7 linked regions of the Homo sapiens genome follow. Changing the gene in region 4 together with the main gene of any one other region gives a genetic interaction. Each region holds a gene or a part of one and is shown on either strand. Other genes may lie near its edges.

What was found.
Region 1: changes in NF2 (region 4) and ACOT9 together harm fitness more than expected from each alone (negative genetic interaction), as found in Homo sapiens cells (one large-scale study listed by BioGRID).
Region 2: changes in NF2 (region 4) and PTTG1 together harm fitness more than expected from each alone (negative genetic interaction), as found in Homo sapiens cells (one large-scale study listed by BioGRID).
Region 3: changes in NF2 (region 4) and BRIP1 together harm fitness more than expected from each alone (negative genetic interaction), as found in Homo sapiens cells (one large-scale study listed by BioGRID).
Region 5: changes in NF2 (region 4) and PPP2R3C together harm fitness more than expected from each alone (negative genetic interaction), as found in Homo sapiens cells (one large-scale study listed by BioGRID).
Region 6: changes in NF2 (region 4) and ARID2 together harm fitness more than expected from each alone (negative genetic interaction), as found in Homo sapiens cells (one large-scale study listed by BioGRID).
Region 7: changes in NF2 (region 4) and PRDX1 together harm fitness more than expected from each alone (negative genetic interaction), as found in Homo sapiens cells (one large-scale study listed by BioGRID).

The regions. Positions count from the first base shown.
Region 1 is NC_000023.11:23,725,565-23,730,243, forward strand, and holds part of ACOT9 (acyl-coenzyme A thioesterase 9, mitochondrial isoform a precursor), read right to left. Parts: intron 1-4,679. UniProt on the Homo sapiens protein: Mitochondrial acyl-CoA thioesterase. Catalyzes the hydrolysis of acyl-CoAs into free fatty acids and coenzyme A (CoA), regulating their respective intracellular levels. Regulates both mitochondrial lipid and amino acid metabolism.
Region 2 is NC_000005.10:160,424,334-160,427,704, reverse strand, and holds part of PTTG1 (securin), read right to left. Parts: intron 1-3,371. UniProt on the Homo sapiens protein: Regulatory protein, which plays a central role in chromosome stability, in the p53/TP53 pathway, and DNA repair. Probably acts by blocking the action of key proteins.
Region 3 is NC_000017.11:61,779,062-61,783,740, forward strand, and holds part of BRIP1 (Fanconi anemia group J protein), read right to left. Parts: intron 1,945-4,679; coding exon 1,779-1,944; intron 1,341-1,778; coding exon 1,200-1,340; intron 1-1,199. UniProt on the Homo sapiens protein: DNA-dependent ATPase and 5'-3' DNA helicase required for the maintenance of chromosomal stability. Acts late in the Fanconi anemia pathway, after FANCD2 ubiquitination.
Region 4 is NC_000022.11:29,694,133-29,697,632, reverse strand, and holds part of NF2 (merlin), read right to left. Parts: intron 2,882-3,500; coding exon 2,831-2,881; coding exon of another isoform or gene 2,824-2,830; 3' UTR 1-2,823. UniProt on the Homo sapiens protein: Probable regulator of the Hippo/SWH (Sav/Wts/Hpo) signaling pathway, a signaling pathway that plays a pivotal role in tumor suppression by restricting proliferation and promoting apoptosis.
Region 5 is NC_000014.9:35,094,000-35,098,678, forward strand, and holds part of PPP2R3C (serine/threonine-protein phosphatase 2A regulatory subunit B'' subunit gamma), read right to left. Parts: intron 2,766-4,679; coding exon 2,710-2,765; intron 2,635-2,709; coding exon 2,559-2,634; intron 1,186-2,558; coding exon 1,049-1,185; intron 1-1,048. UniProt on the Homo sapiens protein: May regulate MCM3AP phosphorylation through phosphatase recruitment. May act as a negative regulator of ABCB1 expression and function through the dephosphorylation of ABCB1 by TFPI2/PPP2R3C complex.
Region 6 is NC_000012.12:45,731,968-45,736,646, reverse strand, and holds part of ARID2 (AT-rich interactive domain-containing protein 2), read right to left. Parts: intron 1-4,679. UniProt on the Homo sapiens protein: Involved in transcriptional activation and repression of select genes by chromatin remodeling (alteration of DNA-nucleosome topology). Required for the stability of the SWI/SNF chromatin remodeling complex SWI/SNF-B (PBAF).
Region 7 is NC_000001.11:45,511,425-45,516,103, forward strand, and holds part of PRDX1 (peroxiredoxin-1), read right to left. Parts: intron 4,384-4,679; coding exon 4,230-4,383; intron 3,572-4,229; coding exon 3,449-3,571; intron 3,214-3,448; coding exon 3,083-3,213; intron 1,959-3,082; exon of another isoform or gene 1-1,958. UniProt on the Homo sapiens protein: Thiol-specific peroxidase that catalyzes the reduction of hydrogen peroxide and organic hydroperoxides to water and alcohols, respectively.

The sequences.
Region 1 (4,679 bases), on a different chromosome or scaffold from region 4:
CCCAACACTTTGGGAGGCCGAGGTGGGGGGATCCCTTGAGTCCAGCAGTTTGGGACCAGCCTGGGCAACATGGCAGACCTTGTCTCTACTAAAAATCAAAAAAATTAGCTGGGCATGGTGGTGTGCACCCGTAGTCCCAGCTACTCAGGAGGCTAAGGCAGGAGGACTGCTTGAGCCAGGAGGTCAAGGCTACAGTGAGCTGTGATCACGCCACTGCACTCCAGCCTGGGTGACAGAGTGAGACCCTGTCTCAAAAACTAAATAAATAATTTTAAAAGATTTAACAATTTTATTGTTAAATTTTAAAATGCCTTAAAATTTAATTAATATGAACAAATTATAAAATTCAAAAGGCCGGGCGCAGTGGCTCACGTCTGTAATCCCAGCACTTTGGGAGGCCGAGGCGAGTGGATCACCTGAGGTCAGAAGTTCGAGACCAGCCCGGCCAACATGGTGAAACCCCGTCTCTACTAAAGATACAAAAAATTAGCCGGGCGTGGTGGTGTGTGCCTGTTATCCCAGCTACATGGGAGGCTGAGGCAGGAGAATCCCTTGAACCCGGGAGATGGAGGATGCAGTGAGCTGAGATAGCGCCATTGCACTCCAGCCTGGGCAACAAGAGCGAAACTACAGCTCAAAAAAAATAAATAAACAAAATAAAATAAAATAAATTCAAAAAATAATCAGTTTTTGAAAGGGCAGAAGACAAAACCCTGGGGATAACCTACATTTAAGGGATCAACAGAAAAAGAGGAACCTACAAAGGGGACTACAAAAGAGCAGCCAGAGAAGCAGAAGGAAATGTCACCAAAGCCCAAGGATGGGCTGGACGATATAAGAAGCCACAAAGGGGTCAGGTCAGCCCTGAAAAGTATCCATTCAACTGTGCAGTAAAGGGGCCAATGGCGAGCTTGGCAAGAGCAGATTCAATGGCGTGGAGGAGCAGAAGCCGGAACACAGCCGACCGGGAAATGTTTAATTAACAGGAAGTTAGCATAAAGAGGCAATGAGAGCAGGTGATTTTCTAGGTTCTTTTCAGAAAGTGAGCTATGAAGTAAGGAAGAAAGTGTGAGGTGTTATAAGGAAAGAGGATTTTTTACTTATCTTTTTTTTTTTTTTTGACTCAGAGCCTCACTCTGTCACCCAGGCTGGAATGCAGTGGTGCGATCTCAGCTCACTGCAGCCTCCACCTCCCGGGTTCAAGCCATTCTCCTGCCTCAACCTCCTGAGTAGTTGGGACTACAGGCACATGCCACTACACCCGGCTAATTTTTGTGTTTTTGAGACAGAGTCTCGCTCTGTTGTCCAGGCTGGAGTCTATCTCAGCTCACTGCAACCTCTGCCTCCCAGGCTCAAGCGATTCTCGTGCCTCAGCCTCCCGAGTAGCTGGGATTACAGGCACGCACCACCACGCCCGGCTACTTTTTGTAGTTTTAGTAGAGACGGGGTTTCACCATATTGCCCAGGCTGGTCTCGAACTCCTGGCCTCAAGTGATCCACCCGCCTCGGCCTCCCAAACTACTGGGATTACAGGCGTAAGCCACCCTGCCCGGCCTATTTTTCATTTTAAGATGGAAGAACCTTGAATATGTTTATAACTTGAGGGAAAAGTGAAGTTGAGAAAAGGCTCAGGAAATGAGGGAGAAAGCCAAGTGATAAGGCAGTTCCTTGAAGAAATAGAAGGAATAGAATCAAGTGAACAGGTTAAAGGGACTGGCCATCAACAGAAGTTAATGAGCAAGAAAGAGGGTAGTGGCAGGGGAGTTTGTATATATAAGGACACCTAAGCAAACCAAAGTCAATCAGGCTGTAGTGCAGTGGTGTCACCACAGCTCACTGCAGCCTCGACTTCCTGGGCTGAAGCAATCCTCCCACCTCAGTCTTCTGAGTAGCTGGAACTACTAGTGCATGCCACCATGCCCAGCTAATTTTTTGGGTTTTGTAGAGATGGGGACTCACTATGTTTCCCAGGCTGGTCTCAAAGTCTTGGCCTCAAGCGATCCTCCTGCCTCGATCTCCCAAAGTGCAAGGATTACAGGTGTGAGCCACTGTGCCCAGCCAAGAATTTTTAACTGGGTTTATTTAATCTAGAGAAAAGTAGTTGCTAGGCGTAAGCTTAACAACAAGCTTGTATCTATATTTTAAAAGTTAGGGCCTGGCATGGTGGCTCACACCTGTAATCCCAGCACTTTGGGAGGCCGAGGCAGGCAGATCACCTGAGGTCAGGAGTTTGAGACCAGACTGGCCAACATGGTGAAACCCCGTCTCTACTAAAAATACAAAAATTAGCCAGATGTGATGGCGGGTGCCTGTAATCCCAGCTGTTCAGGAGGCTGAGGCAGGAGAATCGCCTGAACCCAGAGGCAGAAGATGCAATGAGCCAAGATCGGACCACTCTACTCCAGGCCGGGCAACAAGAGTGAGACTCTGTCTCAAAAAAAAAAAAAAAGGCCAGGCACGGCGGCTCACACCTGTAATCAGAACTTTAGGAGGCTGAGGCAGGAAGATCCTTTGAGCCCAGGAGTTCACGAAAAACCTGGGCAACACAGGGAGACCCCATCTCTATAAAAAAATAGTTTTTTAAACAATATATTAGAACCCTTTTTCAGACCCTTTCCCAACCATTCAGCCCAAATATCATTAGGTGGGAGCAAGTAAGGTAACCTAGAGTAGGGTGCTGGCATCCAAGCACGGTGAGGAGGACATCCTTGCAGAGAGGCTGCAAGAGTGATGGCAGAGCATGTCACAGCTTGAGCACAATGAAGAGGGTGAGCCTGCAGAGGGGGACCTGGTGTGGGGTACCAGAGCCCAGGTAAGGTGAGGGGAGCATCCATGATGCATGAGGGGTGGCAGCCATAGGAAATTGGTCACATACAGCGGAACTGATTAAATAAGTCAATATATTAAGGAGAATGGAGCCAGTTGGAGAAGGGAATTACAAATATGGAAAGGAAGGAAATGAGAATGAACCCCGTGGTGGCTGAACTGGAATTGGAGCTATCAGTGCGATCCCATGGTTTTCATACATACATCTGTACAAAGATTTAGAAATAACATATATGTACGTATATGCACATATATTTCCCAGCTCCTCCACTAAGAGGGTATGGGAGCAGTGATACCCAGGAATAATGACCACTCCCAACGCACATATCTCCATTTCAAAATATCATCCTCCACTTCAAAATATCATTCTCCATTTCAAAAAAGGGCTCCTTGGAGATGTGGGTGATTCTAGGACTGGGGCAGGGAAAAGCATAAGATGAGCCTAGAATATTTTATTGTGCCAGAAAGTGAGAAAGTGCTCAAAGAATAATGGGGACACATCAAAGAAAACCACACAGAAGCTAGCCTGAAGGGACTGGGACACTCCTGGGATCATGTGAACATCAAATAGATGATAGTAACATATTATAGTCCATTCAGTAACATAGGAATTCCTGAGTCCATACTGATTTAAAAATAATGAATTGAAAGTCTGATGAAGGTCTCAAAGTTACCTGCCACCCCCCCCCACATAAGGTACTTATTAATTACAAAGGGGAAAAGAGTAACTTTACAGTGAAGAACAGTGGCAGACATCATCGTCATCCAGTAAGCAAAGCTGATATCATCAGTAATGAGACAAATCAAAACCATGCACCACTTGATAGGATACAATAAGAACAGAGCATCCCTTCTGTGACATTCCTGCCAGAGATGCATAACCCAAAGCTAATCATGAGGAAGCACCACACAGACCCAAATTGAGGGACAATACACAAAAGAACCATGTCAAAGTCACGAAAGTCAAAGAAAGATTAAGGAACTAGTCCTGACATGACAATTAAATCAACATATGATTCAGAACTGGATCCTTCTGCTATGAAGGACCACTGGCAAAAGTTGAATGGGACCTGAGGATTAGACAGTATGACACATCAGTGTTAATTTCCTGATTTTTTATGGTTGTTTTGTAGTTATGTAGAAGAATGTCCTTGTTTGTAGGAAAGACATATTCAAATATTTGGGGGTGATGTGGCATCATGTCAGCCACTTATTCTCACATAATTCAGGGACAAAAAATTTTTTTCTTTTTTATTTTTGAGACGGAGTCTCACTCTGTCGCCCAGGCTGGAGTGCAGTGGCGCGATCTCGGCTCAATGCAACCTCCACCTCCCAGGTTCAAGTGATTCTCCTGCCTCAGCCTCCTGAATAGCTGGGACTACAGGCGTATGCCACCACGCCTGGCTAATTTTTTGTATTTTTAGTAGAGATGGGGTTTCACCATGTTAGCCAGGATGGTCTCGATCTCCTGACCTTGTGATCTGCCTGCCTCAGCCTCCCAAAGTGCTGGGATTATAGGCGTGAGCCACCGCGCCTGGCCACAGAAAAATTCTTTATACTGTATTTGCAACTTTTCTGTAAGTTTAAGACTTTCTTTTTTTAAAGTTACTAGTAAGAAAGATTATTCAGACTATACCTCCATTAAATAGGAATCTACATTTATAAGAAAAAAATTATGACAATTCAGAAGTAGTAGATGCCATTTTTTTTTTTTTTTTTTGGAGATGGAGTTTCACTCTTGTTACCCAGGCTGTAGTGCAATGGCACGATCTCAGCTCACCGCAACCTCTGCCTCCCAGGTTCAAGTGATTCTCTTGCCTCAGCCTCCCAAGTAGCTGGGATTACGGCGCCCA
Region 2 (3,371 bases), on a different chromosome or scaffold from region 4:
GAGAAAGCGTTTTTGTCAGGGCAGCAGTTCTTAGTGTGGGCTGTAGATCCCTTGTGGTCTGAGACCCTTTGAGGGGGTCCATGAGGTCAAAACTATTTTCAAGACAATATTCACACCTTTTTCCACTGGGTTGACATTTGTAATGATGGTACCAAGGCAGCGGTGGAGAAAGCTGCTGGTGCCTCAACACAAATCAAGGCAGTGACAGTAAACCATATTAGCAGTCTCTCTGTTCTGCATCCTTCTTCGCTTGTAGTTTAAAAATGCCAGTTTCACTTACTGTCACTTCACCATATGCAGTAGAAAGTATTAATTTTATTAGCTCTCCATCCTTGAGATGTCTTTTTAATGTTCTGTGTGATAAAATGAGAAGTATGCCATAAAGCACTTCCACTGTACACCAAAATACGATTAAAAGGATTTGTGCAACTATATGAGTTGCAAGCTAAAACTAGAGAACATTTTCCTGGAATACTGTTTTTACTTGAATTAACAACTGCAAGAAATCCCATGGTCACTCAGACCTGGGTGCTTGTCACACTTTTTCTTAAAGGAATGAAAGAAGTCTATCACCTCAAGGAAAACTGACAGCCTTTGTTGCCAATGGCAGAATATAAAACGTTAAAATTTTGTCAAAAATTAAAAAATGAATATTTTTTTTTTGAGACAGAGTCTCACTCTTTCACCTAGGCTGCAGTGCAGTGGCACAATCTCCGTTCACTGCAACCTCTGCCTCCTGGGTTCAAGCGATTCTCCTGCCTCAGTCTCCCAAGCAGCTGGGATTACAGGTGCGCCCACCACACCCGGATAATTTTTGTATTTTTAGTACAGACGGGGTTTCACCATGTTGGCCAGGCTGGTCTTGAACTCGTGACCTCAGGTGATCCGCCCGCCTTGCCTCCCAAAGTGCTGGGATTACAGGCGTGAGCCACTGCATCTGGCCAAAAAAAGGAATTTTGGAAAACTTATCTGCAGTCATTAGCTTGACAGGTGCTTAGACTTTTCTGATGAGATCAGTTGTGGTATTAATGTGCTTTTGATATTGTATAATAAAGCATCTCAACATGTGGGTATCTACATATCTCAGTGAACCAGTATTTCTGAATGGTCAATGCAAGATAGATGCAAGAATATAAGATACATTCCAAGTGCAAAATAGACCAATGGATTTTACTGTCAAGATACAAAATGCTCATTGATACGGTTTCAGATTCCACATTGCAATTTTATATTCAGAAACAGCCACTTGTGGGTTTTAGTGTAGTGGCAAAAAAACCTATCCACACTTATCTGAAAAGACTATTAAAAACGTATCTGTGTGAAGCCAGGTTTTCTTCGTATATTTTAACAGATGTAAGAGTGAATATAGAATTTGATAAGAATCCAGTTGTCTTGTATTAAGCCAAATAAAGCAAATTTTCAAAAATATAAACCATGCCATTCTTCTCCAAACTTTTCCAGAACAAAAAATATTTTATGTTAAAAAAAAATTTACATTAATGTAATGTGATTACTTAGTGAATAAATATCTTAAGTTTCTCAGTCTTAATTTCTAATACAGAAAAGAGCAGATCACACAAGCAAAAGTGGTCTTCAATAATTTCTAAGAGTGTAAAAGGGTCTTTAAAACAAAACAAAAAAAAATGGAGAACCATTGTGTTAGGTAACATTCATTCTTAAAATCCAAGTACCTTACTTCTTAGCAATTATTTTTAAAAAGTGATTTTTCTGTACAGTAACAAAAGTAGGATTTAACACTGAATTTTCTTCAAGGAGCTGTTTTCTCAAAAGATTAGAAAATCATGGTTTTCCTTATCTTTGTCCGTAGGTGTGAAAGTTCTCTAAAGCCTAAGTACTCAAGAATTAGTCTGCTCTTTTACAAGCCTGGTAAAACCCAGAAGTCAAAAAGGAATTGAATGATATGTGACTATTTAACTTAAAACCACTGAATTGTAAAGGAAACCATAGACAGAAGACTCCAGAGGAAAGAAGTTTGCAATATAAGGGGAGCTAATTTTATCTACAAAGAGCTCTTTAATCAAAGAAAAACACAAACCGGAAGTTAATAAAAAAAGAAAAACTGTAAGTGGCCAATAATCAAATATGTTCACCATACACACAACAAATTTAAAACAATGAAATATTTCTTTTCTGATAAAGATTAGAGTTTTAAAACATTGATAGTGAACCTGGAGGAAGCAGACATCTTCATCCACTGTAGACGGATTTAACAATTTACACTATTTTGAAGGGCCACTTAGCAATATCTCTTTCCTGTAACACAGGATATTGTGGTCTTCATTCTTCATCAATATGCATAAATCTACCTCATTTTCCTCAATGGCTGAATGGTAATTATTAGCACGGATGCACCACATTTTATAATTTTAAAACTTAATCACACAAGCCCTTGAACTCAGCAATCCTTCTCAAAGTTTCCCTCCAGATGTACTCACAAACTTACAACAAGATCATTTCAAGAATACTAATCATAGAAATGTTTGTAGTTTCTAAAAGCCAGAACAATCTGAATGCAAATTAGTAAAATAACTACATGACCTCTTTGGCTAAATAAAAGGGTAAAAGATCCAGCTCAGAAATCCGTAAGGCCCTCCCTGATCTGATCCCACACCTCACCTGTATCCTCCTTTACCCTGCCTGTATTTTTCCTAGAACCACTTTAGTCTCTTTTCCTACCTCACGATCTTTGCACCACTTTGACCTACAATGCTGTTTTTTCTGGCTCACTCACAGTGAGATGACTTGTCCAGCATCTGACTTTCCCTTCAAATTATGGGCTCCCATAGGCAGGGCCCATCTTGTTAAACAGTGTGTCCAGGACCTAAGGATGCCTGACACACAGTAGCTTCTCCTGAAATGGTTGAGTAAATTAAAGCTTGAAAAGCTGTTTCCAAAACAGAAAATACTTCAGATACATGTAGCAGGTTGAAGAAATTTGAAAAACATGTCTTCACTGTCTTATGTAGATTTTTCAAACCAAAGAAATAATCCTACCAAATTACTCTCAGGCATTGCTCAACTTGACATAAAGCTCACTTCTAAAAGCCTTGTGAGAAAGACTGTCCACAATGGGACTTATTCAATGTTCATGAATACATCTTACCTCCTCTAGGTGATAAGCTTTTACAGACAGGAACAATGTCTTCTACATCTTTGTTCCTATTCCCCTCCTGACCTAAGATGATACCTTGCAAATAATTCCATCAACAAGTACACTTGTCCAAAGCAACCCAGATTCAGACAGTCTCATCATAGTTTTTGGTCATATATTATATTCATAACAAGTTACAGCTGAGCTGAATACTAAGAAACTAAAGGCCAAAAGCACTTTTCGCAATTGCAAAAGATAC
Region 3 (4,679 bases), on a different chromosome or scaffold from region 4:
ATACATTTCCACAAAAATTAAAATAACATTTAGTAGCCATCGTTATAAAACATTAAAATCTTAAATCATAGGACTCATAAGAGTACTTTTAACTCATTTCAGATATTCAAACATGCTGAACACTTGCTAAATACCAGCTATTAATCTAGGCACAGAGGAAGAACGTGGATGTAAAAGGAAGAATCAGGATACACTGTAGTCTAATGGAAAAGAGAAGCATAAATAATTATACAAGCTGGGCATGGTAGTACATGCCTGTAGTCCCAGCTACTCAGGAGGCTGAGGCAGGTGGACTGCCTGAGCCTGGGAGTTTGAAGCCAGCCTGGGCAACATAGCAAGCGACCTTGTCTCTAAAAAGATAAAGTCTGGCCAAAATGGCAAAACCCCGTCTCTACTAAAAATACAAAAATGTGCCAGGCATGGTGGCATACACCCATAATCCCAGCTACTCAGAAGGTTGAGGCAGGAGAACCGCTGGAACCCAGGAGGCGAAGGCTGCAGTGAGCCAAGATCGCACCACTGCACTCCAGTCTGGGTGACAGAGCAAAACCTTGTCTCAAAAAATAAAAGTAAAAATAAAAATACAGAGATAAAATAAATAAAATATAAATAGGCTGGGCACAGTGGCTCACGCCTGTAATCCCAACACTTTGGGAGGCTGAGGCAAGTGCATCATTTGAGGGCAGGAGTTCAAGACCAGAATGGACAACATGCTGAAACCCCATCTCTACCAAAAAAATAAAAAATTAGCCAGGCGTGCGGCGCACACCTGTAATCTCAGCAACTTGAGAGGCTGAAGCAGGAGAATTGCTTAAACACGAGTGAGCCAAGATCACACCACTGCACTCCAGCCTGGGCAACAGAGCCAGACTCTGTCTCAAAAATCAATCAATCAATAAATAAAACATAATTATACAATGAGAATTAAAGAAATCAAAATTTTGTTTTCATTACAAAACTAAAACTTACTTAGAAGAAGAAGCTGAAATACAGCCTTTTGCATCCCAAGTGACTGGATTATTTCCTTCTGTTGACACATCATTAAGTAGCTGACAGATTTTCTTTTATTGTAAAACTGGAATGTTGAATTTCCTACCAAGATTTACTTGCTGGCACTTCAGGTATCTTCTAACTTGTTTACATAGTTATATTGAAGTAGAAACACTGAAGGCCTTCCAAAAAAAAAAACAACAACTAACCTGTGAATTTTTAATGATATGATTAGCCTCCAGCTGGATAGTAAATGTAACACCAAGTTCTGACGAAAAGGATTTCATTGGTGATAATGTACCAGATGTCAAAACAATGGTCTGAACTTTGCCATTAATATCTGAAAAGGCCTAAAAGAAAACAACATTAGATAAATAAAATTATCTTTAGAAGAGGCTGGGCAAAGTGGCTCACACCTGTAATCCCAGCACTTTGGGAGGCTGAAGCAGGAAGATCGCTTGAGTCTAGGAGTCTGAGACCAGCCTGGGCAATATGGTGAAACCCCGTCTCTACAAAAAATACAAAAATTAGCCGGGCATGGTGACACATGCCTATAGTCCCAGCTACTCGGGAAGCTAAGGTGGGAGGATCGCTTGAGCCTGGAAGGTCAAGGCTACAGTGAGCTGAGATTGCACCACTGCACTCCAGCCTGGGTGAAGAGCAAGACCCTGCCTCAAAACAACAACAACAACAACAACAAACAACTATCTTTAAAAGAGTCAACCACATTTATTAAAATGCTGGTACTGAGCAAGAAGACAAAATTTCCATTTACATGATGAGCTTACCACAGCTGGATTTAAGCACCAAAAGTTTAGCACATGAACTGCAGTTTTCTGTCGTGAACGTTTCTTATTTTTTGGTAGAACCAACAACCCATTTTTGTCTGAAATATCAATCTGATTTGTCCAGGAGTAAGTCTGTTGAATCGCAATTTTATAATCATCTGCAAATCTAGATGCAAAGAAAGTGCTAATTAAGTGGCAAAACTTTTAAAACCTATGACCCAGCTACATACAATATAAAAACTGATTACATTAAAACTCATTTGAAAGAGCTGGTACCTTCCCATTCAAAAATAACATTCTCCTTACCATTAATTAAATTCAGTAATTCTGATATTAATAAAGCCATTAATCATAGAATCAACTGATTCTCAGAGGGAATATTAGAAATCATCTAACCATCTATCTTTTATCAGCTACTTCCTAACCTCATTTTCAAACATTACATATGTCATGGCAGAAGCAGAATTAAAATCCAGGCCTCCTAACTCCCAGTCCAGAGCTCTCTGCATGCTCTACTACATGATGAGTTACAAAATAGAAAACAGTATTATGGTTAAAGAGACTAAAAGGTGGGTTATACTTTTTTATTAAATGAGAAAATAGAAGGATAATTTTTACTGAAAGTTTTTAAAGTATTAGCAACAAGTTATAAAATTCTTACATTCCTTTGAAACCTGAGTCTCAGCCTTCATCTACTTTTAATGAAGGTGCTGAACCAGATGATATCTGTGATCCCATCCAGTGTATAACTGCTTTCAATAAGAATCTAGAAAATGGTTAAGCTTAAAAATAATAAAATGTGGCCAGGCGCGGTGGTTCACACCTGTAATCCCAGCACTTTGGGAGGCCGAGGCAGGTGGATCACGAGGTCAGGAGTTCGAGACCAGCCTGGCCAACATGGTGAAACCCCGTCTCTACTAAAAATACAAAAATTAGCCAGGTGTGGTGGCAGTCGCCTGTAACCCCAGCTACTCAGGAGGCTGAGGCAGGAGAATCACTTGAACCCGGGAGGTGGAGGTTGCAGTGAGCTGAGATAGCGCCACTGCACTGTAGCCTGGGTGACGGAGCAAGACTCCATCTCAAAAAAAAAAAAAAAAGTAAAATGTGATATTCTCTACCATGTCTTCGCTATAGTATTTCCTTATTCATTTCACTCCTAGAGAGATTAGATCTCAAAATTAAAGTTGGGAACTTAACAACTGTGGAGAGAATCTTATAAAAATACTGGGAGCCAAAAACTGTAAAACTCTTAAAACAAAGGGGAGACCGGGTGCGATGGCTCACGCCTGTAATCCCAGCACTTTGGGAGGCCGAGGTGGGCGGATCACGAGGTCAGGAGATCGAGACCATTCTGGCTAACACGGTGAAACCCCGTCTCTACTAGAAAATACAAAAAATTAGCCGGGCTTAGTGGCGGGCGCCTGTAGTCCCAGCTACTCGGGAGGCTGAGGCAGGAGAATGGCATGAACCCGGGAGGCTGAGCTTGCAGTGAGCCGAGATCGCGCCACTGCACTCCAACCTGGGTGACAGAGCGAGACTCCCGTCTCAGAAAAAAAAAAAAAAAAAGGAAAAGAAAACATAGGGGAAATCTTCATATCAGATTTGGCCATGATTTACTGGATGTGACACTAAAAGTACAGGCAACAACAAGAAAAGAGAAAGATAAATTGGACTTCAACAAGATTAAAAACCTTTTCTGCATCAAAGGACACTATGAATAAATGAAAAAACAACCCACAGAATGAGAGAAAATATTTGTAAAGTATATATCTCTTACAGGACTGACATCCAGAATATCTAAATAACTACAGCTCAACAACAACAACAAAAAAACCCAATAATTCAAAAGTGGGCAAAAGACTTCAATAGATATTTCTCCAAAAAAAGACATACAATTGGCCAATAAGCACATGAAAAGATTCTCAACTTCTCTAGTCATTAGGAAATACAAATAAAAACCAGATGATATCACTTGATACCTATTAGGATGGCTATTATACAAAAAATAAAATAACGAGTGTCAGCAAAAACAATTCTGATATATGCTGCTACATAAACTGTTGGCAAGGATGTGTAGAAATTGGAACCCTTGTGCATTGATAATGAGAATGGAAAATAATGCAGTTGCTGTGAGAAACAGTATGGTGAGTCCTCAAAAAGTTAAATGCAGCATTACCATATGATTCTGCAATTCCACTGCTAGGTACTTATATACACCCAGAAGAACTGAAAGCAGAACTCAGATATTTGTACACCAACGTTCATAGTAGCATTGTTTACAATAGGCAAAAGATGAAAACAACCCAAATGTCCATTAACATAAGAATAAATTAACAAATTGTGGTATATACATACAATGGAGTATTATTCAGCCATAGAAAGGAATGAAATTCTGATATATGCTACTACATAAATGAACTCTGAAAACACTGTGCCAAATGAATTGAAATAAGCCAGACACAAAAAGACAAACATTGTATGATCGCTCTTATGTGAAATACCTAGAAAGGACTTCATAAGATGAAAATAGAATACAGGTTAGCAGGTGATGAGGGGAAAGACTCTAGGGGTTATTATTTCATGGGTACAGAATTCCTATTTGGAATAATAAAAAATTTCTGGAAATCTCTGGAAATGAGTACAATGTACAACATTGCAAATATACTGTACTTAATGGCACTGAGTTGTATACGTAAAATGGTTAAAATGGTGTATTTTATGTATATTTTACCACAATAAAAAAAAAATACCAGAACTAGGTACTACTATAATTTAAGTTACAGGATGAGAGGGATTGGTTGTTTTTCATTTTCCACAGTTCATACAATAAAAAAGGGACTTTCTGACACTGTAGGAACATAAGAAAACTTTAGCAATAGAAGATAATTTAATATGAATTAA
Region 4 (3,500 bases):
ATCACGCCATTGCACTCCAGCCTGGGCGACAAAGGCAAAAACTCCGTCTCAAAAAAAAAAAAAAAAGGATGCAGTCATCCCAGCCACAGGAACCAGTCTGTGAAAACCAGGCATCTCTTTCTTTCTTTCTCCTGCTACTGGGGCTTGAGATGCTCCTGAGGCCCATCCTCCTCTCCACCTTCTCCATCTGTGGGGAGGCACCTCAGTATTCCTGCCTCAAGGAGGGGGAAGTGCTCCTGGCTGAGCAAGGTCCTGCAGTTCCCAGCCTGCTCCCTGGAGCCCCAGGTGCTTCTGCCACAGCTCAAACACCAGCCAGCTCCCTTGAGGCCGCGTGGCTTGGCACTTCCCAGACTTCAGAAGTAGACACGGCAGCTAAAGAAGGAAACAAAGCCCGACAGCGTTTTTATAAACCACCATATGCTCCCACCTGCAGCCATTGTTAAAGAACAAATTTACAGGTCAGGAGGAAAGTAACTCCTGGTGGAAATCCAGGGATGGGCTTCAAGACTGAGAAGAGACCGGGCATGGTGGCTCACGCCTATAATCCCAGAACTTTGGGAAGCCGGGGTGGGAGGATCACCTGAGGTCAGGAGTTCGAGACCAGTCTGGCTAACATGGCGAAACCCCATCTCTACTAAAAATACAAAAATTAGCCAGGCATGGTGGCACACGCCTGTAGTCCCAGCTACTCGGGAGGCTGAGGCAGGAGAATCTCTTGTACCTGGGAGGCGGAGGTTGCAGTGAGCTGAGATCGTGACACTGCACTCCAGCCTGGGCGACAGAGCGAGACTCCATCTCAAAAAAAAAACAGAAACAGAAACAGAAAAAAAAAAAAAACGGAGGAGGCAGAGCCAGACCTCACTTTACAAACGCCTGAAGCTTCCGCTCCTGGCTGGGTCACACTAGGAAGACACAGGGCCACAACATCCATACTTACGCTCTAGGTCTGGAGTCCCACCCTGTAGACCCTAAGTGGCTGGGTGGCACCCAGGGCTGGTTTCCTTGGGGCAAGGTGACCCAAGCAGTTGCCGAGCAGCCCAACCCCATTAGGTCAGCCTGATAGTAGGAAGAAGGCAGGATCTCTGTGCTCTGTGAGCTGCTAAGTTTCTCAAAACCAGATGGAATTGCCAGAGACCACCTCTGCTCTCCAAAAATCTTGAGGCCCCCATAGCCTCTATCTTTTATCTGATTAAGACAAATCACCTGCTTTGCATAACAGCCAAACTGGAAGGATCTCAAGGGCCCTGGCTGGCCACAGCAGCATCAGCCATGGAGAAAAGAAAGGGCAAGAAGGGGCTGGGTGCAGTGGCTCATGCCTGTAATCCCAGGTGTGAGTTTGAGACCAGCCTAGCTAACATGGCAAAACCCCGTCCCTATTAAAAATACAGAACATTGGCCAAGTGTGGTGGTGCATGCCTGTAGTCCCAGCTACTTGGGAGGCTGAGGCAGGAGAATTGCTTGAACTCAGGAGGTGGAGGTTGCAGTGAGCCGAGATTGTGCCACCACACTCCCACCTGGGTGACAGAGAGAGACTCCATCTCGGAAAAAAAAAAAAAAAAAAAAAAAGAAAGGGCAAGAAGGTGGCCCCAGACCAAGGAGTGAGCCGTGGGGGTGGTTCTGTGGCCCTCTGTTGCCTGGCATGGAGGTGGGTCCTGTGACAGCCTAGGTGAGCGCCACCTGTGAGTGGACACCTGCATCAGGCCTGTGCTGGGAGGGGCACAAAGGGCCCTGGCTGGCCCCCAGGGAACAGAAAATTCAGGGCCCGAAGAGGGACAAGGGCAACAGCAAAGTGAGGCCTGGGTACAACAGTGGGTTGGGAAGTGGGCTGTGGCCACTGGCACGTGGCTGGGAGGGAAGGTGAAGCAGATGGGCCGTGCAGACTGGGCCGGTGGAGCTCAGAGTCTGGGCCAGTGAGAAGCAGCACCTGTGGAGCCACAGGGCTTACAGATCCCTGGTCATAGCCGGGTTACGGGTGCTGACTGCAGTACGACCAGGGAGTACCCCAGCCCCACACAGGAAGGAGCGTCTATGGGCGTCGGGCAATGGGGAAGACATGAGTGGCTCCTGCCTGCCTCTCGGACCCTGGTCTAGGGTGGCCGGAGGGGGACAGCGAGTGCCCTGTACCATCAGCTCCCGCACGGCACTACCCAGCCCCTCGGCTGGCAGTCAGCCTGCATCACAGCTTCTGCCTAAAGTCTCTCCCCAGCCACAGCTGCCCTGCCTATTCCCCACCAGCTGCCAGCCAGAGCGCCGCCTCGGGGTGCCTGGCGGGGACCCAGCACTTGCTCGTCACGAGCTCTGGGCGGGCTCCCTGACGATGAGAAGCCGGCAGGCGTGCTGGCCTGGGATCCGCCGGGCTGGGCTGCTTCGCTGCATGCCAGGTCCTCACCGGTGGGGGAATGAATGTTCCGGAACCCTGGGCGGGGTGGGGATGATGGCACTGGCTTCTCAGGGCTTCAGTGTCTCACTCCCTACAATGACTTCCCAGGCTGGGCGGTGGAGGTCAGCTCTGGAGTGCAAGACACACACACACCGGTGCCTTGGACGAAGGGAGTCAGGAATCCCACATTAGACAAAGGAAGACAAATACTTCTTAAAACAAAGACTCAGGTCAGAGAACTAGAACGCCATGAGAGAAATCTCTACAGGGTCGTAGTTCAAGGCAATTGCACATAAGAGGGGCTGGGCTCTTCACTCAGCTGGGGAAAGTTCTGGAGCTCCCACGGAAACCCCCAGCCAGCTCCCTATGGATGGCTCTCTTGATATCTGGTCCATCCCGCGGTCCCGGTAGCAGGAGAAGTGGCAGGTCCTGGGGTGGCTGGGTCACCTGCTAGAGCTCTTCAAAGAAGGCCACTCGGGACTTGGCGCTCTGCAAGGTGAGCTGTAAGAAAGCAGAGAAGAAGCTGAGAGGGCACAAGACCTCCGCTCTGTCACACAGGGTCCTGTCCTGCCACTTGGACTCACCTCAAAGGTGGCTGGGAGCGAAAGGGAAGGCTGTTCAAATAGATGCTCAAGAAGTTGGCTGTCAGTCCCAAATAAGCGGCCAGATTTGCCCAATAATTCAAATTAGGAGGTGACAAATGAGGATGTGCAAGGGGAAGGCTGGTGGGCAGAGGCACGCCAGCAGGAAAAAGCCGTCAGCATTGCCTCTTGACAGAGGACCGGAGATCCCTGCCTATTTTAATAGATTCTCACATTCCCATCTACCAAGGTCCCTGAGCCACCTCTGTGGTGTGCTGTCTGTGGCGGCACCAGCTGAGGCTGCTCATCCCCTCCGGGCTTGGCAGGGCAAGCATCTTAGTCCTCATGCCCTGGCAACATGGCTGGGGTAAGGTGACGTGGCCTGAGGCAAGGCAGGCCTGTGGCAGATGAGGAAGAGTTTACCCCTTCTACTCCTGGTTTCCCAGGTGGTCCCGAAGCAAACTTGCTCATGACGTGGCAGCTGAGAAGGTGTTTCTCTCCATGAGCTGGAGGCAACGGCTTTCTCAGTGTGGCTTGTG
Region 5 (4,679 bases), on a different chromosome or scaffold from region 4:
ATTGTTATAATAAAAAGACAAGTGCATGTTATCTTCAGCTGTTCATATAGCCACTTCTAGAGACTAATACAACCTGATTCTCAGAATTAAATCATGGCATATGTGTTACTACATTTGACCTGGTAATTTAATGACGGAACTATCTAGCTGAAAATAGCCAGAATAATTTACTAATGTTTCAGCTTTTAAGAGACATGGTCTCACTCTACTGCCCAGACTGGAGTGCAGTGGCCTCATCATAGCTCACTGCAGCCTCAAATTCCTCAGGTCAAGCAATCCTCCTGCCTCAGCCTCCCGAGTAGCTATACTACAGGCACATTCCATCCATGCCCAAGTAATTTTTTTATTTTTTGTAGAGACAGTCTCGCTGTATTGCTCAGGCTAGTTTTGAACGACTGGCCTTAAGTGGTTCTGTGGCCTTGGCCTCCCAAAGCGCTGGGATTATAACCATAAGCTACCAAGCCTGGCCTCAGCTTTTTTTTAAAAAAAAAAAAAAACTAGAATGCACTACTGTACAGTAGGTGCACTGACAATGAAATGAACAATAAGCTTTTCTATTTGCCCTGAGGCCATAATGCAGATGTTTTAATTTACGTTAAGACCAAAGACTCTGAATCTCAAGTAATTTGATCAGTTTACACATTTTAAAGACACTGTTACACAGTGATATCAATAATGCTGGGCCGAGTGTGGTGGCTCACGCCTCGTAATCCCAGCACTTTGGGAGGCAGATCACCTGAGGTCAGGAGTTCAAGACCAGCCTGGCCAACCTGGTGAAACCCCATCTCTCCTAAAAGTACAAAAATTAGCTGGATGCAGTGGCATGCACCCATAATCCCAGCTACTCCGGAGGCTGAGGCAGGAGAATCACTTGAACCTAGGAAGTGGAGGTTGCATTGAGCGGAGATCACACCACTGCACTCTAGCCTAGGCGACAGAGCAAGACTCTGTCTCAAAAAAAAAAGGGCTGTATTACATCAAGAAAAGGGTTTGTGGAAACTCTGGGAGCCTAAACTTTTAAAACTTAGCAGCAGATTTAAACTACTACCATTTCTCCATCATAAGTGAGACACTCCTGGAAAACACGGTCTAAGAAGACATTGGTCATGGTAGCTGTTCCATAGCGTGAGAGTTCTTCTTTACTGAGCATGCCATTGTGATCTTTATCAAGATTCAAGTACTGGCCTTGGGAAGAAAAATAATAAAGACACTTATGACCACAATAAAATTTTAATCAGAAGAATAGACTAACAAAAAGTTTTTTCTTGGTTAATATTTTGATTTTCAAACTATTCATGTTATGATTAGGGTAGTGGCCTATGTGTAATACTATCAGCTACCTTTGCAATCTTGATCAGAAAAACCCTTGGGCTAGAAACAGCCAAAAAAACCCATCATGAAGGCCATAGTCTCTGGGCTGTTTCACTTACATCATTATTTGTTTTCAGTTTGCAGTCTTTTTAAACATTCCTAGGTTTCTAAATTAAATGGAGGTAGAGGCCAACAAAAAGCACTGAAATGCTAGCACTTGAAAGTAGAGATAAGAATGCCAAAAGGAGGTCGGGCGTGGTGGCTCACGCCGGTAATCCCAGCACTTTGGGAGGCTGAGGAGGGCAGATCAGAGGTCAGGAGTTCCAGACCAGCCTGGCCAACATAGTGAAACACCGTCTCTACTAAAAAAAAAAACAAAAAAAAAAAACATTAGCCGGGTGTGGTGGCGAGCGCCTGTAATCCCAGGTACTTGGGAGGCTGAGGCAAGGAGAATCACTTGAACCTGGGAGGTGGAGGTTGCAGTGAGCCGAGATCATGCCACTGGACTCCAGCCCAGGTAACAGTGCAAGACTCTATCTCCAAAAAAAAAAAAAAAAAAAAAAGCCAAAGGAGTCAAAAGACCACCCAACAAGATAATGTAGATTAGCTCCATCAGTAGACCCTGGGAATAGCATTTTATCAACAAAGCATGACAATAGCTAATGTTCATAATGATGCTCCTGAGTCAACAAGGATCAAATTACATTCTGTTCTATTGAAAAGGAAGTGTATAACTTAAAAAGGGTTCTGCTGGGTGCAGTGCCTCATGCCTATAATCCCAACACTTTGGGAGGTCAGGGCAGGTGGACTGCTTGAGCCCAGGAGTTTGAAACCAGCCTGGGCAACACAGTGAGATCCCATCTCTAAAAAAACATAAAATAAATTAGCCAGGCATGGCGCCTGTAGACCCAGTACTGGGGGTGGTGGGGTGGGTGGGGTAGGGGCACTGAGGTGAGAGGATTGAGCCTAGGACTTCAAGGCTGCACTGAGCCGTGATCATGTCACTGCACTCCAGCCAGTGTGACAGAGTGAGACCCTGTCTTCAAAAAGAAAAGGTTGGGGGGAGTCCAAAAAGTTAAAACATCGGTATTTAAACAAGTAAATTTTGGTAATGTAGAATACTAAAGCTTAAGGTAATTAAATATTTTGATCTTAAGGTATATCAGTGTATGTATAAAACTGTCCTCTGAACACCAATTTCCTGAAGAATGGATAATTCAAATTTTAGCATTATGATAGGAACATACCATAAACTCTTAGGGCAGAAGGAGCAGAAAACCAATTTGTTTCTTGACTCTCCTTGGACAGTTCCTCATCCCTTAGCTAATGGAACACAAAGACATAATTAGAAGATAGCAACTGTCAAGTGATACAATTAAGTAGTTTAAAAACATTTACCTCCAATAAATCATCTAGGAAGCTGCATGCTAAAATATCTTGAATTTTTATCTTTCCTTTAAGAACATAAAGAAACACAATTAATTTCATTTTAAGAAAAGAGCAACTCAATTAATTAAAAAAAAATTTTTTTAACAAGAGCAATCACACAATTGATATTTTAAAGCTTCTAGCTCTTATGCTCCAAAGTCCTTATTACATATTGCTACAAAAAGGGAAATCTCGGCTGGGCGCGGTGGCTCACCGCGTAATTCCAGCACTTTGGGAAGCTGAGGCAGGTGGATCACCTGAGGTCAGGAGTTCCAGACCAGCCTGGCCAACATGGTGAAACCCCATCTCTACTAAAAACACAAAAAATTAGCTGGGTGTGGTGGAGGGCGCCTGTAATCCCAGCTACTCTGGAGGCTGAGGCAGGAGAATCGCTTGAACCTGGGAGGCAGAGGTTGCAGTGAGCTGAGATCAAGCCATTGTACTACAGCCTAGGGAACAAGAGCAAAACTCCATCCCCACCCTGCAAAAAAAAAAGAGAAACCTACAGGCAACATTTAATAACATCTCTACTTGTATACCTCAACTATATAAATCTAAGTGGTAAATTCTAAAATTATACTGATGTCAGATTTTCAAAAAAGTTGTGATTATAGATATAGTACTGCTGGTACACGAACAGGGACACTGTCTCCATTTATTTTTGGCAGGTTCTGGACTAGAAAGCAATACGCAGGTAAACAGGTGTGGTTTAAGAGCAGAGTTTGTTTTGTCTTGTTCTTGTTCTTTTTTTTTTTTTTTTTGAGACAGAGTTTCGCTCTTGTTGCCCAGGCTGGAGTGCAATGGTGTGATTTCAGCTCACTGCAATCTCTGCCTCCTGGGTTCAAGCGATTCTCCTGCCTCAGCCTCCTAAGTAGCTGGGAATACAGGCACCCACCACCACATCCAGCTAATTTTTTCTATTTTTAGTAGAGATGGGGTTTCACTATGTTGGCCAGGCTGGTCTTGAACACCTGACCTCAGATGATTCACCCATCTTAGCCTCCCAACGTGCTGGGATTACAGGTGTGAGCCACTGCGCCTGGCTGCTGCTGCTTTTTTGTACAGAAGAGGTCTGTCTTGCCAGGGCTGGTCTTGAACTCCTAGGCACCAGTGATTTCTCACCTCAGCCTCCCAAAGTGCTGGGATTACAGGTGTGAGCCACCACACCTAGCCCAGATTGGAGTTTGAATGCCACTTTTAAATATGTAACCTAGCAAAGTCTCAGTTGCCTTACACATAAAATGTGGACAATAATGTACCTTCCTTATGGGGTTATGAGATGAAAATGAATGAATCCATGTAAAATGCTTAGCATACTACATAAGTCAAAACGTGATATTATTTTGTAAAATTTGAAAAAGTATATATGTGTGTACTTATAGTAGAGGAGTTCAAAAAACACTGTCAGCTACCATATGCTGTGATTGGATTCATAACTGGATTTTTTTTTTTTTTTTTTGGACACAAGGTCTGGCTCTGTTGCCCAGACTGAAGTGCAGTGGCCCGATCTTGGCTCACTGCAGCCTCTGCCTCCTGGGTTCAAGTGATCCACTTCAGCAGCTTCCCAAGTAGCTGGGACTACAGCCGTGTGTCACTACGCCTGGCTAGTTTTTTTTTTTTTTTTTTTTTTTGAGACGGAATTTCCCTCTTGTTGCCCAGGCTGGAATGCAATAACGCGATCTCGGCTCACCTCTGCCTCCCGGGTTCAAGCAATTCTCCTGCCTCAGCCTCTCGAGTAGCTGGGATTACAGGTGTGAGCCACCGTGTCCAGCCAATTTTTGTATTTTTTTTGTAGAGAAAAAGTTTTGCCATGTTGCCCAGGCTGATCTTGAACTCCTGAGTTCAAGTGGTCCACCCAACTCAGCCCCCCAGAGTGCTGAGATTACAGGCGTGAACCACTGTGCCAGGCCCATAGCTGAATTTTCAAGGACAGAAGGACA
Region 6 (4,679 bases), on a different chromosome or scaffold from region 4:
GAATCCCCTCAACCCCATCCGTCTGCTCCATTTATCCTCTATGTCCTTCCCAATTCAGACAAAATCCATTTTTATCATTAAACTTTAGTAGGTCTGGAAAACACCCAATAAGCACCTTCACAATATAATTAAAACTTTTAAATACTTTACCTAAAAATATATATTAAGTACCTGCTCACTGACTAATGAAATGCAGTTAAAACTGTGTTTTTCCTTCCTTTCCAACTTCTAATTTCATTCAGTTTGAGAATATAAAATATCTAGTAGCAATATACTTTTTTTTTTTTTTTCAGACGGAGTCTCGCTCTGTCACCCAGGCTGGAGTGCAGTGGCACGATCTCGGCTCACTGCAAGCTCCGCCTCCCGAGTTCAAGTGATTCTCCTGCCTCAGCCTCCCGAGTAGCTGGGACTACAGGTGCATGCCACCACGCCTAGCTAATTTTTTGTATTTTTAGTAGAGACAGGGTTTCACTGTGTTAGCCAGACTGGTCTTGGTCTCCTGACCTTGTGATTCGCCTGCCTTGGCCTCCCAAAGTGTTGGGATTACAGGGCGTGAGCCACCACGCCCGGCCACAATATACTTGTCTATCAAAGACGTTATAGATTTCACACGATCAACTATGAAAATACTGAATCCACAACAAAGCAGAGATAGGATTATGAAAGAGTGCTTCTATTCAGGGACATTTTTAGTTAACAGCTAAGGTAGAAAATTTAACTGCAAAAAAAAAGCATATAAACATTTTTGGGAATTATAATGTTCTCATTTTGTATCCTCAGGAAAATTTGTAACCTCAGTGAAAACTATCTGTCTTAGAAAGAACTCAATTTATTTCTACTTTGGGCAATTTAAGCTCTAAAAACATGGATTCTAAGACATAACACTAACCTAGCTGAGCTTTGATAAGTCTTTCAACTTTCTCCACTTTCTGCTCTTCCTTTCAACAAGTCTGCATGTCCTTTAAAAACGTAACAGAATATCAGAAAATATCAAAATCAGGTTTTTTGTTTTTTAAAATGGATACACTGCCAGGCTCAGTGGCTCACTTTTGTATCCGAGCACTTTGGAAGGCTGAGGCACAGTGGCTCACTTTTGTATCCCAGCACTTTGGAAGGCTGAGGCGGGAGGATACCTTGAAGCCAGGCATTCAAGACAAGCATGGGCAACAAAGCAAGACCCCTGTCTACACACACACACACACACACACACACACACACACACACACACGATACAGTTTATAAAGTTAAATTTGAAATACATGCATGAATAACTTATTGATATATTTGTCTTCCAATCTCCATATACTTTTATTTTCCTTCCTTGAATAAGAAGGGCAATCAGTTTATTCAGTTCCGTTTAGCAATTTACAAACTCAGTGCTTATATACCTAAGGCTTTCTCTTAAAAGAATTGATCTATATGGTGGACACTAACTAGAGAACACATGAGTGTATTCATTCAATTTAACTAACAAATGTAAACTCCCTCAAATGGTGTAATTTAAGAAAGAGCTTTACCCACCAAGAAAAAAAAAATAGAATAAATTCACAATGCGATTGAAAATGTACTATGGTAAACATAACTCTACAATTAAGTTTCTGACTATTCTAAAGGTAGGTACATATAAATAGAAATGAATATTTCAGTGCCAGAAAACTAGTAACATATAGTTTTGTACAATAAATTTTTAATGTCCAAGATATTTCACCCCCTTTCCAAAAAAATCAAGTTTTATAAAGGAAACATCAAGTTAACCTTGACTATAGCTGTAATATTGGCATCAGTAAGCAAAAACAAAATTTTAAAATATTTGAAATATTTACCTAAATCTTCATACCAAAACTTCAAATTCTTAACCCAGATAAGACCAGCAAACTGTCCCCCAATTTCAACAACAAAACAGAACAAAAAATTAAAATCCACCAAGTAAATATGGAACACATTAGGCAAAGAGATACTTGGGCATAAATTTAACCATAAGTAATTTCCAAATATTATTGAACACGTCATGAACACAACATTTTGGTCCAATTAATGAAATGTTCCCTAAGCCATTTAATTTTTTTTTTTTTTGCACTTTAATATCTCCATCTACAAAATGTGGGAAACTATACCTTATCCTTTCATACTATAGGAATATCCTAATAATAAACATTGGTGGAACACATTGAGATGTACATGCCAAGAAAAGGAACTACATGAAAATAAAGTGCATAAACATCACAGATGATTAGTATCCAATTTTTAATTTATTTATTTTATTTTATTTTATTTTTTTGAGAAAGAGTCTCACTCTGTCGGCCAGACTAGAGTGCAGTAGCACGATCTCCGCTCACTGCAACCTCCGACTCCCGGGCTCAAGCAGTTCTCCTGCATCAGCCTCCCAAGTAGCTGGGATTACAGGCATGAGCCACCATGCCAGGCTAATTTTTCTATTTTTGGTAGACACGGGGTTTCACCATGTTGGCCAGGCTGGTCTCAAACTCCTGACCTCAGGTAATCCGTCTGCCTCGGCCTCCCAAAGTGCTGAGATTACAGGCGTGAGCCACCGCACCTGGCCTCCAATTTTTAAATAGACTGCTTTTACACATTATCTGTAAGCACTTTACTTTTTTTTAATTTTTAATTTTTGTGGGTACACAGTACGTGTATATATTTCTGGAGTAGGTGAGAAACTTTGATACAGGCAGGCACTTATATTTGTAAAAATTAAATGCCAATGTTAAAATAATCAATTGCATTTTCAATTTTAGACTCTAAGAAATTTTTGTAGACAAGCTATAACTGAATAAATGTATATTTGAGAAAATTAAGTTAATGTCTGGCAGACCATTAATACTCAAGTCTATATTTAATGACTGTCAATATTTGTATCAAAAATAACAAAACACTATTAAAATATACATGGCCAGCATACTAGCTTGCTCTTCCTAATTTAAATTATCTGTAATATTATGAAGATATATCATAAAACACTAGGCTAACAGCCATCCATCCAATTAATAGCAAACTTACAGGGGAATGTGAGCAAATATTAAACTTGTAAAGGAGGAATAACACATATAATGACAGTCTTACAATAGGTCAAATGAAAAAGCAGTTCATATTAAAAAATTATTCCACTTGTAATTTAAAAAACACACTGCATTATCTGCTCATCAGTAATGATGATATTCAATCTGACGTAGCAAAGAGGTAACTTATCAAGTCACTCGATTACTATTTCTTACTATGAAGAGCCAATCTTATGGGTAGGTAATAGAATTGCTGTTACTTGGCATCTTGTCTGCCAATTAAGATTTTTCAGAGGAAGGTGTAAAAGCTAGCATCATATATATCCTCTTACTGTGCAATATTAGACCACCAGGAAAAAATTCTTTCAAGGTTGGTAGTACCTAAGTTTTGACCAGCATATTTCTTTTGTATTTCTTTACAAGCCATGCAAATCTTCACATGGTTTTATTTTCCAAAACAAATGCTTCAACTTTTTTCCTAGTAGCCTAGCTACAACCCTGCAAAAACAAACCTAGAGAGTGACATATGGAGGAAAAACAAGTTTAACTAAGGACATAGTTCAAAAAGCAGCTTCTAATAAGAGCAAAAAGCCCAATTTGATCTGAAGACCATGTAAATACTTACAATGTTGAAACTATATAGTTAAAAACAGTACCTATAATTAATGATATCCTCCCAAGATAAAAATGACAACTGGAAAAACAATATTTATAATTAACTTTTGTTAAAAAAAATTGGAAGCCTAGATATTAATTTGATTATGCTAAAACTATTAGTATGAATGTAAACTCTTCAGAAAAATATACATCTCATGAATCATGTATATTCTATAGTACTTTCTGGTTATAAAACTTAAGTCAATCAATCTAACAAATATGAAGCAAAACTTCAAAAATATGTATTTCAAACAGTCCAAAATTCAAATGCTTTAAACTGATAAAAACATAAAACCAGAATATGTATTAACATGTTCCTCTCAATATCATAAATAGAAATGAGCAAATGAATGTCACGATGAATATAAAACTCTCTTGTTTCTCACCCCACTACTAACTCAACGGTTTTGGAGGTTAATTTTGCTTTTTGATTTAGCCCTTTAATTTAAAATGTACTCTGACACAAATGCCATCACACACACACAATAGATGACAACCATATTTAATATTTTCTAGACTTCCTGTGTAACTCAATAACTACTCCACAAAGTTCTGCGAACTCCAGCTTCAAGCCTGAAGTCAATCTAAGATAGCCAATAGAAAGTACACCTGTGCGATTACTGCATTTCCTATTTCAGAATGCTGAACGTAATACACAATAACTGAGTGCATCTGAAGCAATAATAAATGCAAAACTCAAATTATGCAGAAGCCACCTTACAAAAAAAGGCCTGTACTATCACTATTAAAAAGCAATAAATACAAAGAATATCATTTTAGTTTTTAATAACACCAACTAACTTAGGATCCTCTAAGATAAGCACTTTAAAAATAAAACACAGCATCATGATAAATTACAGTATGAAAGTATTCCTAGAAGAAAAACTAGAGGCAAAAAAAAAAACGCTAAATCACAAAATATATCATCTAGACTGTATCACATACCAACTGAATAAGAAATTAAACTTTGCCGAATAAGCAGTCAAAGAAGAAGAGGGAGAATGAAAG
Region 7 (4,679 bases), on a different chromosome or scaffold from region 4:
AAGGCACCACTAATTAATAACCTTCTCAATGGTATGCACCACCATTCTCCTATGGACAAAACCAGTTCTGCACCTGAACACTCAGATACCAGGAAACCTACCCCTGCAATCAGTCTTAGATCATTCACCCTTTTAGTATGAGCTAACCATTTTACAAACATATAATCATCACCACAGCCTTAAGATACTATCATGCCTAATTTATTCATGTAGCACTTGAAATTTAAATTTTCCACAAAAAAAGGCAAAGTTTAAATAATTTGCCAACACTCTCTAATCCTTAAGGGGAAAAAAAAGCTAAATAAACGACACACATAGGACTATGTAAACCCTTAACACTAAACTGTTTCTGACAGCCCTTCAGAGCTCTGAAGACAGCAAACTCAGTCTGCCTTCTCAGCATTCTTCTAACTCTACCAAACTGGATAGCCTGAACCTTATAAAGGATCAAGAACTTAACAGAAGCCCCCGCTTGTTTCATTAAGTAACTGCCATCTACCCCTTGGTAAGCAAAAGGCAGAGTTTGAAATTTTTCATAGATTTATACAGAAAGCACAGCCTTCAACCTTTTCCTGACAATGCCTAAGAATGTGCCTCAGGCTAGCCTGAAGAAAATGAGGCAAGGGGACTAATCTCTTATTTTTCTTTTTTTTTTTTTTTTTTTTTTTTTTTGAGATGGAGTCTCCCTCTGTTGCCCAGGCTGGAGTACGGTGGCGCAATCTCCACCTCCGTCTCACTGCAACCTCGGTCTCCCGGGTTCAAGCGATTCTCCTGCATCAGCCTCCCAAATAGCTAGGATTACAGGCGCCCACCACCACACCTGGCTAATTTTTGAGACAGTCTCACATTGTCGCCCAGGCTGGAGTGCAGTGGCGCGATCTCAGCTCACTGCAAGCTCCACCTCCGGGGTTCATGCCATTCTCCTGCCTCAGCCTCCCGAGTAGCTGGGACTATACAAAAATAGTGGGGCGTGGTGGTGGACCCCTGTAGTCCTAGCTACTCAGGAGGCTGAGGCAAGAGAATCACTTGAACCCAGGAGGTGGAGGCTGCAGTGAGCTGAGATCACACCACTGCACTCCAGTCTGGGCGACAAAACAAGACTCTGTCTCAAAAAAAAAAAGTGTTTGGCATTCATTGGCTCTTAAATGGTACCTATTTAAGAGGCTGTACATGTTCCAGTGGGATGGGAAGCAGCAGAGACCAACAGAGTCTGAAGAAGCAAGCTTCTGAGTTATGAAAGCCTGGGTTCAGGAGACTAACCTATATGTAGGTTCCTAGGAAAGTCCAGTTAAAGGGCCTACTTTGCCACTGCTGCCTCCTTCTTAATGCTGAACCTCATCTCCCACAAGGGGGCAGTCTCAGCAGGTGTCAGCTGAGCCATGTGTCATCTGTCCAGGCTAACTGCCCACACATCCTTCTGCAAAGGGTACCTCTTGGTTATCAGTGCTCACTGATCCCTATATAATCAGACTCTAATCCCTGTAAAAAGATTACTTGGTGCTAGCCAAGCTAGCACCTTTGGGTCTTCCCAAACATACACCACTAATCCAGACTCTAATAACTTCATTTCCTTTAAATTACAAGATCAGAGCTGAAATAGGCCTTAGAAAGCTAGTCTGGGCTGGGCGCAATGGCTCAGGGGAGGCGGAGGTTGCAGTGAGCCAAGACTGCGCCACTGCACTCCAGCCTGGGCAACAGAGCAAGACTCCATCTTGCAAAAAATAAATAAATAAATAAAAATATGAACTATATGGATTAACCTCTTCTCTCAATAAAGTTATTTAAAAAATGGCATGCTTTATCTCTAGAGGTGATTCCCAACCATTTTGTTTTGCCCTAATACATCTGTGAGATCATCCTACATTCAGTAAGTTAGATCTTTGGGAGTGACTGATTCTAAATGAGCAGGACAGAAGAGAGGAGTATGTATACTTTGAATAAAAAGCCTTTATATTCTCCTTCCCAAGCTTTTCCATTACCCTCACCCTCACAACACACTGTAATCCAGGGGCTTCAATTTATGAAGAGAGATACCCATTTTCTTATTTGGTAGCTTCTGTTCCTACTATCTTTCCCATTCTACCACTGTGGGGAAAAGAGAGATCAGATTGTTACTGTCTCTGTGTAGAAAGAAGTAGACAGAGGAGACTCCATTTTGTTCTGTACTAAGAAAAATTCTTCTGCCTTGAGATGCTGTTAATCTGTAACCTTATCCCCAACCCTGTGCTCCCTGAAACATGTGCTGTGTCAACTCAGGGTTAAATGGATTAAGGGCTGTGCAAGATATGCTTTGTTAAAACAAATGCTTGAAGGCAGCATGCTCGTTTTAAGAGTCATCACCACTCCCTAATCTCAAGTATCCGGGGACACAAACACTGCGGAAGGCCACAGGGACCTCTGCCTAGGAAACCCAGGTATTGTCCAAGGTTTCTCCCCATGTGATAGTCTGAAATATGGCCTCGTGGGAAGGGAAAGACCTGACCGGGGTCCCCCAGCCTGACACCCTGTGCTAAGGAGGATTAGTAAAAGAGGAAGGAACGCCTCTTTGCAGTTGAGACAAGAGGAAGGCATCTGTCTCCAGCCAGTCCCTGGGCAATGGAATGTCTCAGTGTAAAACCCAATTGTATGTTCCATCTACTGAGACAGGGGAAAACCGCCTCAGGGGTGGAGGTGGGACATGCGGGCAGCAATACTGCTCTTTAAGGCATTGAGATGTTTATGTGTATGCACATCTAAAGCACAGCACTTAATTCTTTACCTTGTTCATGATGCAGAGACCTTTGTTCACGTGTTTATCTGCTGACCTTCTCTCCACTATTATCCTATGACCCTGCCACATCCCCCTCTCCGAGAAACACCCAAGAATGATCAATAAATACTAAGGGAACTCAGAGGCCGGCGGGATCCTCTGTATGCTGAACACTGGTCCCCTGGGCCCCCTTATTTCTTTCTCTATACTTTGTCTACGTGTCTTTTTCCAAGTCTCTCATTCCACCTAACGAGAAACACCCACAGGTGTGAAGGGGCAACCCACCCCTTCATACCACCACTCTGTTGTCCTGTTATCAGACAGATGGCTTACCTTCCCCATGTTTGTCAGTGAACTGGAAGGCCTGAACTAGTCTCAAAGTCTCATCCACAGAGCGGCCAACAGGGAGGTCATTTACAGTGATCTGCCGAAGAATACCCTTATCATCAATGATAAAAAGGCCCCTGGGAAAAGAGATGAAAGGAAAAGCAATACAGGTTTAGAGATGTGCTTTGTTAGAATACAGAGGCTTGAAGCCTGAAGGAAATGGACTGGTCTCCACACTCCTACTGGCCTGGCCTTAGTGAGGAGGCCCCTGCATAAAGGAATGAAATGACAAGGAGTCTCTACAGATCAGGGCTCTAGATCTCTCCAAATAAAAGGCTTTCAGCCAACTGGATACTTGTCCTGATGACATACCTGAACGAGATGCCTTCATCAGCCTTTAAGACCCCATAATCCTGAGCAATGGTGCGCTTCGGGTCTGATACCAAAGGAATGTTCATGGGTCCCAGTCCTCCTTGTTTCTTAGGTGTATTGACCCTATGGCAAAAGGCAAACATACAGTTACATTCAAACTCTTGACTTGACTGTACGCATTCCTCTTTCCCCTTTCCCATATTCCTAATCTAACTTTCCAAAAAGACTGTTTTTTTTCCGTTTTCCAGCAATAAAGTGAATGCTGAGAACAGTTAAGGTAGGTCACTAGGGTACACTCAACTGCAATTGAAGCTGCTTCTTCTCTGCTGCCAGGTCATGAGAGCAATAAGAGAAAGTCAGACTTTGCACTCCCTTCAATGAGAAGGCAATACTTGAAAGTCTATTGCCAAAGCTTCCCAGTTGCTGTTTTAAAAGTTCACATGCCAGCCAGGTGCAGTGGCTCACACCTGTAATCCCAGCACTTTGGGAGGCTGAGGTGGGCAGATCACGAGGTCAGGAGATCAAGAACATCCTGACTAACACGGTGAAACACCGTCTCTACTGAAAATACAAAAAATTAGCCAGGTATGGTGGCAGGCGCCTGTAGTCCCAGCTACTCAGGAGGCTGAGGCAGGAGAATGGCGTGAAACTGGGAGGCAGAGCTTGAAGTGAGCGGAGATCACACCACTGCACTCCAGCCTGGGCGACAAAGCAAGACTCCATCTCAAAAAAAAAAAAAAAAAAAAAAAAGTTCACATGCCAAATAGACCAAGAGATTTACCATGCTAGATGACAGAAGTGAGAATCCACAGAAGCACCAATCACTTGGCAGTTGAGTTTCTTAAATTCTTCTGCCCTATCACTGAAAGCAATGATCTCCGTGGGGCACACAAAGGTGAAGTCAAGAGGGTAAAAGAAGAACACAACATATTTTCCTGGGGGGAAAATCGGAGTCATGGTTAGCATTTGACACAGACTTCCTTGCTTTATATTTTCCTATACAAAAAGAAGCAAGTTGATGGCTGACACAATAACCACTAACTGCCAAGATGCTCAATACAGATGTCTCCTAGAAGCTACTTTTAGAACCTGGTGCATTAGGAATACCTGAATGAAAAAAACTTCCAATCCCATACTTTATTCTCCTGCCTCCATGTCATAGCTACCAATACAGAGTAAACACTGTTCAGTCTAATTTTGATCTTTTCTGAGTGGCTAAAATTAACATAAA